Linked DNA regions of Homo sapiens: region 1 is linked to region 2. The links come from fine-mapping of genetic effects on gene expression. A gene starts in region 2. The other region holds a variant in brackets. All regions are shown on one strand. Distances are from middle to middle. Region 1 has its middle 26 kb from the start of KLHDC7A. Region 2 holds the start of KLHDC7A (kelch domain containing 7A).

What was found. PIP is the estimated chance that this variant, and not a neighbour inherited with it, causes the effect. A credible set is the group of variants that fine-mapping cannot tell apart.
Region 1: its variant is the best candidate, but not a certain one, in a credible set for the expression of KLHDC7A in whole blood (TOPMed, PIP 0.52).

The regions. Positions count from the first base shown.
Region 1 is chr1:18,451,821-18,457,193 of GRCh38, forward strand. No RefSeq gene overlaps it. Among named protein-coding and RNA genes, the nearest start is that of KLHDC7A, 26 kb to the right of the region's middle. The variant G/A (reference allele first, on the strand shown) is at 3,172.
Region 2 is chr1:18,478,330-18,483,702 of GRCh38, forward strand. KLHDC7A (kelch domain containing 7A) reads left to right here and starts at 2,601. Exons shown (of 1, transcript NM_152375.3): 1 at 2,601-5,373. The coding sequence starts at 2,653. The coding sequence ends at 4,986. RefSeq lists enhancers at 1,679-2,551, 2,552-3,423.

The DNA of each region.
Region 1 (5,373 bases), 27 kb before region 2:
GCCCATCAATGATAAACTGGATAAAGAAAATGTGGCACATATACACCATGGAATACTATGCAGCCATAAAAAAGAATGAGTTCATGTCCTTTGCAGGGACATGGATGAAGCTGGAAGCCATCATTCTCAGCAAACAAACACAGGAACAGAAAACCGAACACCACATGTTCTCGCTCATACGTGGGAGTGGAACAATGAGAACACATTGACACAGGGAGGGGAACATCACACACTGGGACCTGTCGGGGGGTGGGGGCAAGGGGAGGGATAGCATTAGGACAAATACCTAATGCATTTGGGGCTTAAAACCTAGATGATGGGTTGATAGGTGCAGCAAACCACCATGGCACATGTACACCTATGTAACAAACCTGCACATTCTGCACATGTATTCCGGAATTTAAAGTAATTTTTTTTAAAAAGACAAAACAAAGAGAACTTGAGAATGTACAGCCCTTGGCCTTTTCAGAAGGCTCCATCTTAGAGCAAAAGGAACTTTCCAGGTCAGTGAAGTTTTCTCCACATTACCTGCCCTTTCTACATTGGCATGTGACTTACACTTCTCTGAGCCACTGAGGGAGGGGACAAGGAAAAAGCATAAGCCTCTGCCATAGACCAGGCCCTGTGCTTGGAATGTGTATCGATCAGGAATAGCCTAGGGACAGATCAACCCAGAAATCTCAGGGACTCAAGGCAATAAAGTTTTATTTCTCTCTGATGTTATATGTCTGCTGCAGGTTGGCAGGTGGCTCTGTCCCAGAGTCACTCAGGGTCCCAGATGGGTAGAAGGACCCTGAGTGATGCTGTTATCCCAACTTCTAGAGTCTTCATAGACAGGTGAGGAAGAGTGTGAATAACTCACACATGCTTTTAAATGTCTTGGTCTGGAAGTGGCATATATTATAGCTGCTTGCATACCATTGGCTAGAACTAGTCACATGACCCCCACATGACTGCAAAGGGGTCTGGGAAATGTAGTCATCTGTATGCACAGGAAGGAGAGAAGAATCAGATCTGCTGAGCATAATTCTTCTTTATTACAGTGCCTTTTAATCTGCAAATATTGCCTATTCTCATGCTTAACTCACAGCAATATTCAGCAGCAGATATTGTGCTTATTTAACAGATTTGGGGGCATCTCCTATGATCCAAATGCAGGAGCTTTAGTGTGGGGATTTTCAAGGGCTACTTTTGGCAGCCCAAGATCTTTTATAAATTCATTCCTGGTTCTCACCTCTATTCTTGGCCAGTGGTTCTCAGTCTGGGTGCTATGACACGCCAGGAGGGTTCCCCAAAGATAGGATACCAAAAAATGCAAATTATTTGCTTTGTTAAAAAACAAACAAACAAACAAACAAAAAACAAAGCACAGACATTAGAGTGAGTTCAAGGTTAGCCCTAGAATAGCAACAGTCTGCGAGGGTACAAATGGAAAGGGTGTAAGAACAGGTACAAAGACACACGGAAATATTTTTCCCTCAGGAATTTGCATCTCATCAGACAAAAGGCTTAGGAGCCACTGCTCTTGGCTGTGGAATTTTCCAGTCAAATGCCCCTTACAAAGCAGCAGAATTTGTATGTGACCATTTGAGGGGAGACAGCAACAGTCATTACATTGGATAGACCTGTGGTCTTCCTGCCACACCCATGAGGGAGCAGTGTGGGGCAGAGAGGGGAGCATGACCCGAGATTCAGGCTGATCTCAATCAGAACCGTGGCTCTGCTCAGCACCAATCCTGTGACCTGGCTCACTGACCTCCTGAGGCTTGGCTTCCCCCTCCTGTGAAATGAGGAGAACAGTGTCCATCTCCCAGATTGTCGAGGGAACTGAACAGGAAAGTGCGCAAGAATCTTCAAGCAGGTGCTTGGCTCTCTTTTTTACCCTCCCTTCCCCTGACAGATGGACATTTGGTGTGAGGGCCAGATGTGTTGGCATTTGCCACTACAAACCCAGAGGGAGCTGCCACATCCACCTTCACCTGCCAGAAGGTGTTTCAAATGCTGTACTGTGGGGGGAAAAGGAAATGAGTTAAATCCTCAAGTACAGGAGCTTGGTTAAATAAACTCATTCAGATTAATGAAGATTGTGTTGCCAAATGTTTACAAGAAACTTGAAGTAGCAAAGGAAATGTTTATGATACAATTTGAGAAGGAAAAAATAGGACACAATATGGTGTATACAAAATGGTATCAACTATGCAAAAACAGAGTTCCTGGCCTAGGAAGAAGTCTGGAAAGATATACTCCATAATACAGTATGGGTCTACCAATGAGCATTATCCTTTTCTTTACATATTGGATTTAATTTTATGTTTATTTTTGTTGCAATTTCAATTTTTTGTATTTTAATCTCATTTAAAATATGATAAATTATTATGAGAAAGATCTCTTTTTAAAATAATGTGAATATGGAATTCCCAAAGGTACCAGTTGCACCAGTATGTCAGAGATCTGGCTTGTTAGGTGTTGCGTGTGATTGGGGCAAGCAGGGTGTTGCATAGAATGAGAAGCAGCAAGCACTTTGGGGAGAGCAGAGCTGAACTCGAATCCTGTCCTACTCCTTTCTAGCTCTGTGACCTTGTGCAAGTTGCTTCAATTCTGAGCGCCAGGATGCTCTCAGGTCAAATGAGGATGAAAATTCTCACCTCATGGAGAACTCATATAAAGTCCCTAGCAAAAATCTTTGACACAATGTAGAAGCCTATAGCAGGGGCCCAGTAGATTCTAATTCTTTTTCTTCTCTACATCCAGTGGGCATTCTGGGGTGGGTTCCTGACCACCACCTAGGTTGGGACACTGGGAACTGCTGCCAAAGCCTCTTGCCCAAGATCAATGGGCAAGAACTGACTCACAAACTCAGAATCCCTCATCCGTCTCTACTTCCCCCCAACCAAGGCTGGTCCATGCATCCTGAGTGATTCCCCCACGACTCCGGATCTCCTGAAACTTGTCTGCAACTCTCTGTGCAAGTCACGAAGTATTGCTGTCGACAGATTCCTCTTCAAAGGGACCTTGAGTTAAAGAGCAGCTTCTTCCTTTACTGAAAGCCTTTGAAGTCCAGGCCCTGGTAAGCAGAGTGATTAGGCAAGATGGCCTTGACAGGTTCCTTCCAACCCAAGGGTCTGAGATTCTCTTCCCGCTCCTTCATCATATGCTCTGAGAGGTAAAGTG[G/A]GCTGAGCTGGGCTGGTGGAAGCTGTTGCCATAGCCTGGGATGTCCACCTCCCTCCTGTGTACCCTCCAAGCACACAAGCAACTCCTCTTCTAGAAGCCCTCCTAACCTCACCACTCTCCTTCCAGATTGGCTGGAGCCCTCTCCCCTAATCCTATTCTGTATCCTTCTCAGTAGTGTAACTGCCTTGCAAATGACTGTCACCACTCTGGATGCTGGGCTTCTTGAGGGCACAGACTGAGTCTTGTTCATCTTCATATTCCACCCAAGGCAGGATCTGATGCAAGGCACTTGCTCAAGAGATGTTTGCTGAATTAATTAATCCCACTTGCCCCCAGAAATAAAGTCTCACCAATGAGGTTAAGGCTTAGTTGTGACCCCCTTAGAAGGAACTAGCATGTATGAGTGTATAATCTCTGTACTAGGCATCCTGCTAAACCTTTTTATTACCCCTTTTTAATTCCCAAAAGTACTCTAGGAGGTAGATGTTATTGTCCCCATTTTACAAATGAAGAAACTGAGGCCAAGAAAACTTAATTGACTTACCAAACAAGTGACCGAGTGGCAACTCAATCCCTGGCTGTGGTCCAAAGATTGGGCTTTTGTTTTATATTTATTTCTTTATTTTGAAACAGAGTCTGGCTCTGCCACCCAGGCTGGACTGCAGTGTGCCGTCATAGCTCACTGCAGCCTCGACCTCCTGGTCTCAAGTGATCCTTTCCCCTCAGTCTCCTGAGTAGCTGGGACTACAGGTGCACAACACCAAGCCCAGCTGAATTTTGTTTTGGGTAAAGATGGGGTCTCATTATGTTGCCCAGGCTGGTCTCAAACTCCTGGGTTCAAGCAATCCTCCCACCTCGGCCTCCCAAAGTGCTGGGAGCCACATTACAGGTGTGAGCCACCATGCCCAGTCAGATTGGCCTTTTCCACACTTTCTCTGTCACCTCCCTGTCAGAAGGTTAGAAGCTGTCTCCAAAAATTTCTTAATTATTTCCCTTTGAAGACCTGCTATGGTCTAAAAATATATCTATTTTTTAACAACTTTATTGAGGCATAATTAGCATACCATAAAATTTGTCTAAGTGTACAATTCAATGACTTTTTAGTAAATTTTGCAGAGGTTTAACAATCACTGAAATCTAATTTTAGAATATTTCCATCAACCTAAAAAGAAACCTTGTGCCTATTAGCAGTCACTGTCTGTTCCCACTCCCAGCCCCAGGCAAACACTAATCTACTTTCTGCTCAATAGATTTGTCTTTTTTTTGACTTTTCATGTGAAAATGGAAATAGACAGCATAGACTCTTTTGTATCTGGGTGTTTTTTTTTTTCCACTTAAATATTGAACACTTGGGTTGCTGCCACTTTGGGGCTCTTATAATATTGATGCTGCTGTGAATGGTCACATACAAGTCTTTGAGTAAGCTTAAGTTTTCATTTCTTTTTTTTTTTTTTTTTTTTTTTTGAGATGGAGTTTTGCTCTTTTTGCCCAGGCTGGAGTGCAGTGGCGTGATCTCAGCTCACCGCAACCTCCACCTCCCGGGTTAAAGCAGTTCTGCTGCCTCAGCCTCCCAAGTAGCTGGGATTACAGGCACCCACCCACACCCAGCTAAGTTTGTATTTTTTTAGTAGAGACGGGGTTTCTCCATGTTGGTCAGGCTGGTCTCGAACTCCTGATCTCAGGTGATCTGCCCACTTCAGCCTCCCAAAGTGCTAGGAATACAGGCGTGAACCACCGCGCCCAGCCAAGTTTTCATTTCTTATGGACGGAACCGGAAAATTACAATTGCTATATCATATAAAGTTATGCTTAACTTTTAAGAAGCTGACAGACTAGTTCCAAAGTGGCTGCACCATGGTCCATTCCCACCAGCAATGTGTGAGGGTTCCGATTCCTCCACGTCCTCACCAACACTTGGGATAGTCTTTTTTTTTTTTTTAATTATAGCCATTCTAATGGGTGTAAAGAGTATTTCGTTGTGGTCTTAATTTGACCTTCTGTAATGACTAATGATGTTGAGCGTCTTTTCATGTGTTTATTGGCCATTTGAATATCTTCTATGGGGAAATATCTACTATAATTTTTTGCCAATTTTTGTTTTTTGAGGCAGGGTCCCACTCTGTTGCTAAGGCTGGAGGGCAGTGGCGTGATTAGAGGTCACTGCAGCCTCGACCTCCCAGACTGAAGTGATCCTCCCACCTT
Region 2 (5,373 bases):
TCTACTAAAAATACAAAAATTAGCTGGGCGTGGTGGTGCATGCCTGTAATCCCACCTACTCGGGAGGCTAAGGCAGGAGAATCGTTTGAACCCTGGAGACAGAGGTTGCAGTGAGCTGAGATTGTGCCATTGCACTCCAGCCTGGGTGACACTCTGTCTCAAAAAAGAAAGAGAAAAAGAAAGAAAGGGAGAAAGGGAGAGAGAGAGAGAGAGTTAAGAAGGAGGGAAGGAAGGAAGGGAGGGAGGGAGGGAAGGGAAGGGAGGGAGGGAGGGAGGAAAGAAGGGAGGGAGGAAAGAAGGGAGGGAGGGAGGAAGGAAGGAAGGAAGGAAGGAAGGAAGGAAGGCAGGCAGGCAGGCAGGCAGGCAGGCAGGCAGGCAGGCAGGCAGGCAGGCAAGCTGCATCTCTAACAAGCACCCCTTGTGATCCTTGTGCACATTGCATTGATAGGCACTCTTTTGACCAGGATGGAAAGAAAGAGAATTCAGGGGACCCCTCTTGACAGCTACCAGTGGGACAGGCTGAGGACACCTGACTTTCTAAGAGGTCACACCTGCTGGATGAAGTCAGGTCTGTAAAACTCTGGACTCTGCAAACAAGGTTTTGAGTCCCCATTTACAAGCCAGTTGACATAATCTTGGAGGTCCAGTTACCGCTGCTGTCAAATGGGGATAACAATCGTGTCTCTCCCCAAAGGGGCTGTGAGCATGAGACGAGATGAGATGAGCTTCATCCCGAGTGTTCACCCCAATCCACTCAGTGTAAAGACAATCCCTGCTGGCTATTGTCCCAAATGGTGCAGGGCCCCACATAGGCTTAGGGTCCACAGCTGAGCCAGCTACAGCCTCTGTCCTCAAGGACTTAGAATGCAGCAGACCAGATCTTGCACACAATGCACTTTACGATGCAGCAGCTGTGGCCAAGCCTAAAAGAGGAGCATCAGAGAACACGAGACCCAAAGGAAGAAAAGGTGATCTTGGACGGATGAAGGCACCAGGGAAGAAGGCCCAGACACAGCCTTTTACCCAACTCTGATGGGCCAGAGGGATGTCCACCAGCCTTCCCTGCCAAGAAGTCACCCTGAGCCCGGTTTGCTAGGCAGTGATCAGGAGATGCATCTGGAAGAGTAAACCGAAGCTGGTACACAGAGAGTTGTGAACGTCGGCATAGGGAGTCAGGATTGTCTCCTAGAGTCAAAGCCTTCAGAGCCAAATTCCTCCCATGCGTGTGCTTCCTGTGGCCCACAGTGTTTTTCAGTTTCATTTTTGAATCAGATGCCAACATTTTAAAATTGAGAGTGATTATGTCACTACTGGGATTCTAAGCTTTTTGCGACAGTGGGAGGATGAGGCAATGCTGGGCCTGATACCATCGGCTGGGGTGGGGCGGACAGACGTCCTTACTTGTTCACTTTACCTACCCAGCCTCCATATGCAGCAAGAGTTTGAGACCCCTGCACAGGACTTTGGGGACTCTTTGAGGACCTTGGTCAGGAGAAGGGTAGAATTAGTTCTGTGCTTTGGAAGGTCCTCTGATGACAATTGATACTAGCGATGATGGTGCCGATGATCAGAAAGAGGAAAAGGAGGAAGAAGCAGAGAATAGTTCATATTTACTAAGCTTTCATGATGGGGGCTCTGCCCCAGTGTTTATTCCTAGTAGCCCATTTAGTTCTCCCCACAAGCTGATGAGGTGCGTATGCTGTCATCCTCCTTTTTCAGACAAAGCACAGAGCGGTGAGGTCTCTTGCCTAAGGTCATATAGTTGGTAAGTAGCAGAGCCAGGTAGTCTGGGTCCAGGACCCACAGCACTGGTGATGGGGGAGGGGAAATGGTGAGGGGGGGTCTGGGAGACGTGAGTCTTCCCTCAATCTTTCACCGTAGGAGATTGTCTGGTTTTAAAAGAGAAGATGTGTCCACATCTAACCCCGATCTGAGCACTAATGCAATGTCTTTCTCCACTGTTCTCAGAAAGGCTGGTTTTTCTTAATAAACTTGTCAGGCAGGGAAGGAGGGCAGAGGCACTCAAGGGCCGGCTCAGGTGGCTTGGCTGCATGCCCTGGCTCCAGACTCCACTGCCATGTTCCCGTTCCCTGCTTGGCCAGCATAAAGTTGACCCCACTGTGAGGACCAGCAGACCTCACAAGAATGACCCCATCCACGCCTACTGGGGCTCCACCTGCCCATGACTCACCACACCCAAGCCTCTGAGCCCAGTGGACTTGCAAAAGAGAAAATAAAGCACACACATAAAGAATAACCAACCCCATGCATTTCCTGGCATCGGGTGACTGTTTGGTTAAGAGCTTCCTCCTCTTTTGTATGCCCACTGGATACTCCTAACATCCCCTAGCTGCTGACCACAGAGCTGGCTTAGGTGGCTGATCACAAGCTCAGCCCCTGGGCGGGCCCCCCACCCCAGCCACCAGGGAAGCATGGAAGGAGGCCAGCCGCTGGGATCTGCCAGCTCTGGGCCCCAGCGGCCACCCTCTGCAGCTCAAAGTCACCTTTGCTCCTCTCCTCTCCTCGGCTGGCCAGCCAGAACCAGCCCAGAACTCCCTCCCCTCCGCTCAGCAGGACCCAGGAACTGGTCCCTACTGGGCAATTATTAATCAGATTCTTGACATTCCTCAGCCCCAGGTTGGCTGGAGAAGCATGTTCCCCAGAGGAGCAGAGGCCCAGGACTGGCATTTGGATATGCAGCTGACCGGCAAGGTGGTGCTGTCAGCCGCTGCCCTGCTCCTGGTGACTGTGGCCTACAGGCTGTACAAGTCGAGGCCTGCCCCAGCCCAGCGGTGGGGTGGGAATGGCCAGGCAGAAGCCAAGGAGGAAGCAGAGGGCTCAGGGCAGCCTGCTGTACAGGAGGCTTCTCCTGGGGTGCTCCTGAGGGGGCCAAGACGTCGGAGGAGCAGCAAGCGGGCTGAAGCACCACAGGGCTGCAGCTGTGAGAATCCAAGAGGCCCCTATGTCCTGGTCACGGGGGCCACTTCCACAGACAGGAAGCCCCAGAGAAAAGGCTCAGGTGAGGAGCGGGGCGGGCAGGGCTCGGACTCTGAGCAGGTGCCTCCTTGCTGCCCCAGCCAGGAAACCAGAACAGCTGTTGGCAGTAACCCTGACCCTCCCCATTTCCCCCGCTTGGGCAGCGAACCGAAGAGCTCCCCAGCTGGACTCATTGCAGCAGCCGACGGCAGCTGTGCCGGTGGTGAGCCTTCTCCATGGCAGGACAGTAAACCCCGTGAGCATCCAGGACTGGGGCAACTAGAACCTCCCCACTGTCACTACGTGGCTCCCTTGCAAGGCAGCAGTGACATGAACCAGAGCTGGGTCTTCACCCGTGTGATAGGGGTCAGCAGAGAAGAGGCTGGGGCTCTCGAGGCTGCCTCCGATGTTGACCTGACCCTGCATCAGCAGGAGGGCGCCCCCAACTCCTCCTATACCTTCTCATCCATAGCCCGCGTCCGAATGGAGGAGCATTTCATACAGAAGGCGGAGGGGGTTGAGCCCCGGCTCAAGGGCAAGGTGTACGACTACTATGTGGAATCTACCTCTCAGGCCATCTTCCAGGGCAGGCTGGCTCCCAGGACAGCAGCCCTGACTGAGGTTCCATCCCCTAGGCCACCGCCAGGGTCCCTGGGAACAGGGGCTGCCTCGGGAGGCCAAGCCGGTGACACAAAGGGTGCAGCCGAAAGAGCCGCCTCCCCGCAGACAGGGCCGTGGCCCTCCACCCGAGGCTTCAGCCGGAAGGAGAGCCTTCTGCAGATAGCGGAGAACCCAGAGCTGCAGCTGCAGCCAGATGGCTTCCGGCTCCCCGCTCCACCCTGCCCAGACCCGGGCGCCCTGCCTGGCTTAGGCAGAAGCAGCCGGGAGCCCCATGTGCAGCCGGTGGCCGGGACCAATTTCTTCCATATCCCGCTCACCCCTGCTTCAGCCCCACAGGTCCGCCTGGATCTGGGCAATTGCTATGAGGTGCTGACCTTGGCCAAGAGGCAGAACCTGGAGGCCCTGAAAGAGGCGGCCTACAAGGTGATGAGCGAAAACTACCTGCAGGTGCTGCGCAGCCCGGACATCTACGGGTGCCTGAGCGGGGCAGAGCGCGAGCTGATCCTGCAGCGCCGGCTCCGGGGCCGCCAGTACCTGGTGGTGGCTGACGTGTGCCCCAAGGAAGACTCCGGCGGCCTCTGTTGCTATGACGATGAGCAGGATGTCTGGCGCCCGCTGGCTCGCATGCCCCCCGAGGCCGTGTCCCGGGGCTGTGCCATCTGCAGTCTCTTCAATTATCTCTTCGTGGTGTCCGGCTGCCAGGGGCCCGGGCACCAGCCCTCCAGCCGCGTCTTCTGCTACAACCCGCTCACGGGGATCTGGAGCGAGGTGTGCCCGCTGAACCAGGCCCGGCCGCACTGCCGGCTGGTGGCCCTGGACGGGCACCTGTATGCCATCGGCGGAGAGTGTCTGAACTCGGTGGAGCGTTACGACCCCCGCCTGGACCGCTGGGACTTTGCCCCGCCGCTCCCCAGTGACACGTTCGCCCTGGCGCACACGGCCACGGTGCGTGCCAAGGAAATCTTCGTCACCGGCGGCTCGCTGCGCTTCCTGCTGTTCCGCTTCTCTGCGCAGGAGCAGCGCTGGTGGGCCGGCCCCACCGGGGGCAGCAAGGACCGCACGGCCGAGATGGTGGCGGTCAACGGCTTTCTCTACCGCTTTGACCTCAACCGCAGCCTGGGCATCGCCGTGTACCGCTGCAGCGCCAGCACCCGGCTCTGGTACGAGTGCGCCACGTACCGGACGCCTTACCCGGATGCCTTCCAGTGCGCCGTGGTGGACAACCTCATCTACTGCGTGGGACGCCGGAGCACCCTCTGCTTCCTAGCAGACTCTGTCTCACCCAGGTTTGTGCCCAAGGAGCTGCGGAGTTTCCCGGCCCCGCAGGGCACCCTCCTGCCCACCGTCCTGACCTTGCCCACCCCCGATTTGCCTCAGACCAGGGTCTAGCAGTCCCTCAACTGAGCTCCTCATGCAAAGCTGGGGGCCACCGGGCTCCACTGCCAGCCGTCCCTCTGGGGGCCATTTCTAGGCAAACAGGCAACCCAGGAATGTGGCCATCAAGAGGTGAATTCCGGTCCTTTCTCCTCCCCTAGCTGGGGAGAGAGGGATCTTAGATGAGTCTTACCCTTCATGGGCTGCAGAGGCCCCACTGCAGAAAAGAGGACCAGGAGCTGGTGTTCCAAGGCAGAAGGCATTCATGTCTTCAGGGATGACCGCCCTTGCTTCAACTCTGAATTCTTGGGGGGATACACCGGGACCCCACCAAAGCTTAGGGGGCATAGTCTTTTTGCAATCACAATTCTAGGAGCCAGTTGACCCCAGCAGCCCCTCGCT